Regions from separate parts of the Homo sapiens genome. Here region 1 is linked to region 2. Evidence: fine-mapped expression QTL. A gene starts in region 2. The other region holds a variant in brackets. All regions are shown on one strand. Distances are from middle to middle.

The links.
Region 1: its variant is fine-mapped to the expression of CACNA1D in whole blood (TOPMed, PIP above 0.99).

Annotation. Positions count from the first base shown.
Region 1 is chr3:53,700,957-53,703,859 of GRCh38, reverse strand. It overlaps CACNA1D (calcium voltage-gated channel subunit alpha1 D), which reads right to left. Exons shown (of 48, transcript NM_001128840.3): 9 at 1,050-1,219. Among named protein-coding and RNA genes, the nearest start is that of CHDH, 140 kb to the left of the region's middle. The variant C/T (reference allele first, on the strand shown) is at 1,291.
Region 2 is chr3:53,492,845-53,495,747 of GRCh38, reverse strand. It overlaps CACNA1D (calcium voltage-gated channel subunit alpha1 D), which reads right to left and starts at 1,137. Exons shown (of 48, transcript NM_001128840.3): 1 at 515-1,137. The coding sequence starts at 581. RefSeq lists enhancers at 1-72, 73-858, 1,189-1,688.

The DNA of each region.
Region 1 (2,903 bases), 210 kb before region 2:
GGCTGCATTTAGTGTGACAGGCCTGTCTCTCCCTAGGAGGCAGCACTCCACATCCTCTCCAGCTCTGGGTTTCCCCTGTACCCAGCAACAGGCCTTGCTGAGAGCAAAACATCCAAGGCGCTCTGCTCAAGCAGGGACTTGCTCGGCCATCTTCTACAACGTAGGGCCGGCCTCGGGTCCCCAGGCCTCTCAATGGACATGTGCACTTGAAGTACGTTCTTGGTCCTTCCTATCCAACTCTTCTAGATTTGAAGCAAGTCACAGACATCTCAGTCAAATGCATTGCTGGATTCCAGTTTCCACTCTGACCCGAGGCACAAAGGGCCCCAGAGAGAATAAGAGCGCATCTGTGGGAAAAGTATGCAGTGAAAGAGACACCGTGGTTGACAATGGCAATTAATGTCAGTGATGGACTGAGTTCTCAGGCCTTGCCTCCTGCAGAAGGTGCTCTAGGGTGCTTAGTGTCACAGTGTGGGGTGTCGATGGGTGACAGCAAAGCAGCTGTCACTGACTCACGTGCCCCTTAACACCTGCCTAGAATGGTGAGCCGGTTTCCTCCCAGCCCCTGATGGGCTAAGCATATGGCTTCATATGAATAGCACATGTAGGAGCCATGTCAGGTGGCCTAAGAGTAAGAGTCAAGAGGAACCCTGCACTTCAAATTCTTGTCCAATAACACTGTTCACTCTGAGGTGAGGGAAACCACAGCTTCTTCTCCTGTGGTACAAGAATATGTGTCTCATCACCCCTGTGCCCGCACAGAAATGCGCTTACTGAATTTCCCAGGCCAACAGTGGGTCCGTTTGACCTTCCTTGGCTATAAAGCCACCTTACCAAATACAACTCTAAACCCCAAACCTCAGGCAGAAATCCAGAGTCAGCACCAATGCACCTGTTCTCTCCGTGATGTGTGCAGGCAGAAGGGACCAGATGGCTGGGAGGAGGCTGTCCCACTCACAGCCTGGGTCAGAGTCGAGGAAGGCCTACTGCTAGGCGTCTGAACCGCACACTGGGTCTGTCTAGCCAGGGGCAGGAAAGGCGCTACATACTATTTCGTTTGCCTTCCTCTCCTCCTTCTTCCTCATTCTCCGGATCGATGTCCTCAGCTTGGGTGATCCAATCCAAGTAGCCCTTTAGATCCTCCTCCAGCTGCTGCTTCTCCCGGAGCTTCTGGAAATCTCCCCGTGCTTTTGCCTTCTCTCTTTCCTTTGAGAATTCTCTGAAGGAGGCAAAGAGGACAAGCACATATCAGGACATCCTTGGGGACCTGCATCCTGAGCCACTGCCCTA[C/T]TGCACAACAGTCTTGTGGGCAGGACACACAGCACTGAGTATAGTCACATGAGCACAGCAATGGAGCCACACACTTGGACAGGACAGAAGACAGTGTCTTCCAAAGCAAGACTATGGGGGTCAGAGTCGCAGAGCCCACACCAACACACATGCATCATTTCTTAGAAAATGAACTCCCCTCGATGACAGCGATCTCAAGGGGCCTAGGCCCAAAACACCATGTGCTGTCATGGCAGGCCTCTGACACCCCCCAACAAGGGGCCTGAACTCAGAGACGCCCCACTTTCCCCAGAGCCTCCTCAAAGAGGAGGGACCCAAATGGGCCAAGCTGTGGTCAAAGAGTACCAAGTTTAGAACTTCTTCAATGCTTTTGGACAAACTTTGCATTAATATTGTGTGCTACCCCTTTTGTCCAAACCAAGAGCTCTGAGCAGGCAGCAGTCCTTGCTGGTGCCCACACTAGGCTCCTCTACCCATCACCTGCAGGTTCGGGCCAGAGCAGTGCATGGAGTCAGGGCAGTCCCCACCCCCTCCACAACCCAGTTCTCCCTTCCCAGATGGGAACTCGAGCACTGATGAAGCATTACTGTTTTTCTTAACCCCTGCTACTTGTCATGGTCTTCCCCAAAAGTCTTCCCTGCAGGAGGGGAAGAGGCATATGATTTTCTGCCCATTTATAGGAACACCTGCCCTGGAAAAGATCTGGCAGACAGGTAAATGTTCCCAATTGTGGGGTGTTTATGCTACTTTCCACCATGTGTGCAAGCCTCTGACTATGCATATATACAAAACCCCACATACTCAGGCAAGCCTGAGAGTCAGGTGGACGATTACCCAATTTTTATATATGAGGAACCATCTGCATCTCCAACCGTGAGTTGTTATAGGAGCCAAGATATGTGAGTTAGAGACTTAGTAAAAAGCTGCCAAGGAAGCAGGTGAGGTTACAGCAATGCAGTTTCTGCACACAGACCTTGAGATTCTGACACAGGTTACTTCTGTCTGCCTTCTTGCCTTTGTTCCGAGTCAAAGCCAGCATGTCTCTTTCAGGGTCCTACCTCGATAAGCCAACCCAACCCAACTCAACCCAACCCAACCCACGAATGGGGAAGTGACCTGCTTTCATAAAGCTAACCCCAGCCAGGCACGGTGGCTCACGCCTGTAATCCCAGCACTTTGGGAAGCCAAGGTGGGTGGATCATGAGGTCAGGAGTTTGAGACCAGCCTGGTCAACATGGTGAAACCCCATCTCTACTAAAATAAAAAGAATTAGCTGGGCATGGTGGTGCAGTCCCAGTTACTCAGGAGGCTGAGGCAAGAGAATTGCTTGAACCTGGGAGGCAGAGGTTGCAGTGAGCCAAGTTCATGCCACTGCATTCCAGCCTGGGCAACAGAGCAAGACGCTGTCTCCAAAATAATAATAATAATAATAACAACAACAACAAAACTAACCCCATATTCACACCCGTCTCTTAACTCTAGGCTGTCGAGGGGCTGAACAGATGCTTGCACACCCAGTGACACTAATACTTCAGATAAGAAACTGGAATCCTCACCAAGTGCCACCCTCTGCCCACAATTAGAAAGAATCCCACTCAGACAGAGGTTGCGGC
Region 2 (2,903 bases):
CCGGGCCTCCCCCGCGAGGGGATGGGTGTGCTTCACCCACCGGCGCGGAGGGCGAAACCGGGCAATCCTAGAATTTTCCGGATGCCACCAGGGACCTTCTTCCTAGTCAACGAGGGGGCGGGGGAGGAGTGGAAGGCGAGAAGAGGCTGGCAAGGGGGCTCCGGCTGAAGACTTGCGGCCCTCCTGCCATCGCTCGGGGGCGTTGAAGGAAAGTTGAGCCCGAGGACACTGAACCCGAATCACCCCGACTCGCCGCCCCTCCGGCTGCACCGCGCTCCACACACTCCACGGCCGCCCCCACCCCACAAATGCAGAATTAACTCTGACATTCAGGGCCTGGAGGGGAGCGCGGAGTGGCTGTCACGCATGTCCCCTCTCTGTGTAGACGACACCGAGCTGGCAGCACCCTCTCCAACCCCCTCAACCCATCCAGCGCCGCGGGGAAGGGGGAGGGGGCTGGAGGACCATGACAGGATCGGATTTGGCAGCGGGTGCCCGGGCTCTGGCTGCTCACCGTTCGCGTGGTCCGCTTGCTGCTGCCGTTGATGCTGCATTTTTTTCATCATCATCATCATCATCATCCACGAACATTTATTGAGCGACTACTGTGTGCAGGGCACTGTGCTGGGCGTTGAGGCGGGGGCGGAATGGGGAAGGGGATCACCAAGAGGTAGGAGCCGCGGTCCCTGCCCTTATTCTCGCTTCAGCAGGGGGGTGGGGAGGGACGGGGACAAATAACAGAAAATAAGGATAATTGATTTAAAAAAAAAACCGCTCGCCACCCAAGCTCTCTCTTTTTCAAAAATGGAGCAAAATAAACTTTTTAAAAAAATAAAATCCAATGTATATATTATCTTAATAATATATACATGTAATTTTTTGCTGCAAAGGAGAACTGGCTTGTCCCCTCCTCTAGCGGAGAGACGCCGCGGTGATGCCGGCCCGGCCGCCGGGGCCGCTCGGCGCTCCCCCCATGCCCGCCCGTCTGCCCGCCCGCCGCGGTGCCCGGTGCCCGCCGCCGCCGCCCGCGCCGCCGCTGGCTCGGGACCGCGGGCAGCCGGAGCTCACATCCGGGGACGGAGGCGCTCGCCCGCCCGCTCGCTCCGCGCCCGCCGCGCCGCGCCGCACGCCGGCTTCGCCCTGGCGACGCTGCGCGCCCGCCGCCGTCCCCCGCCCTCCGCCCGCCCCGAGCCGCCCACGGCCCGCGCCGCGCCGCGCCCCGGCGGGTCTGCAGCCCGGCGCGCGGTTCTGCCCGGCACCACTTGCGCGCTCGGGGTGGCCGTCGCGTGGGACTCGGGGTGCCGCCACCCCAGCCTGGCCCGGCTGACCTGCGGGCTCCAAAGGGTTAAGCGCGCTCCAGCGGCGGGCTGCCCGGTTAACCCCCTCCGCGCCGCACGGTGCGCTCTCCCCCCGGGACCCGGAGGAGGCAGGCGGCGCCAGTGTCTCCCGCGGCGCTGGGGTGCGGATGAACCGCTCCTCCCCGCGCATTTCTGGGCTGGGGGACAGCTCGGGCTCCCGCGCCGGCCCCGACTCCGCGCCGGCCTCCTCTGCGCACACCTGGAGGAGGCCCCGCCCCCTGGGAGCTCAGGTGCTAGCGGGCGGTAGCTGCTGCGGTCTCCGAGCTCATCCTCGTCAAGGCTCGGCCGGGCTCCCTGGCTGCTCCGGAGCGGGGCAGGCGCCCCCTGCTTTTCTCCGGCCCTTTCTGGAATCGGGGGGGTTGGGGTAGCCCGGGTCTGTAGAGAGCACTCACTACCCCAGGTAACTGCCTGCAGCTGGAACCGCGAATCCAGGGCGCCCCCCATCTTCTCCCCTGCCCTGCGCCTGGCCTGGCGTCGCGGAAGGCAACGGGGATGGGGGGCAATATCTCCCCCCACCCCACCCCGCCCCCACGTGTGTTTGGAGGCAGGTACAGGGAAGTCAAAGCCAAGGTCTTTCAAACCGCTCGTGTTGTTCAAGGAAATAGACGGTGCTGCTGAAACTGTTGCCTCCAGTCTGGGAGCTGAAGGGAGTAGTTTATTTTTTGATACCTTCGCTGGCTTGGATTTAGGGTGGGGGAGATTTGCAAACGGCAGCTCCTGTCTAAAGGGGAAAATACTTTATCTAGTGGATGACTGATATTTTTCATTTAGCTTTGTGCTGCCTGTTAGGAGAAGGGCGTCTGCTTTGTTACTTCACAGGATTCGATTTATTTGCTTTTGTTCCTATCTGCATGTTCCTACGGCGTTTTAGAACGTTTCAGAACAGTGACTTTAAAGCGAAAATAAAGTAAAAGCTCAGCGTGAATTAAGAAAAATAAGTGTTTATGGGAAGGTGCTCCTTACCCAAAGAGAACACACTAGTCATCCTCAATTGTTGGGGGGCACCTGGGCAGAGAGACTGGGGACCAGACAGAAGACTCTCCAGAGGCCTTCCTGAGGGGGTGTCTGGTCCGTGAGGATGAAAACAACCAGGCTCTTGTCCTTTTTTGTGCTTTGTTTTTGGAGACTGGAGAGGCGAGAAATCGCCCTACGGTCTAGTAACAATATAAAGCTGGCCTGGGCCACCTCTCCTATGGCTGCTTCTGATCCAAAATCTGAAGGGAATAGAAGACGGTTCCCTCCAAAGAAACTAGCCCATCCAAGGAGCATGTATGAAATTCACAAGTACACATGTCACTTTCAGAACTCCTGGTCTAAAGCCTTGCCTCTTGAGGCCTTTTCTACAAAATTCCCTGAGCAAGTTTGTTTTATGATACCTTTGCTGGCTCAGATTTGGAATGGGGGAGATTTGCAAACAGCAGCTCCTGTCTAGAGGGAAAAATACTGTATCTAGTGGATGACTGAGCCGAACCATATTTGCTCATTGTTCAGTTCAGTGCAGCCAGCATTCATAAGGCACCGGTTAAGAATAAGGGTCTGGTCTAG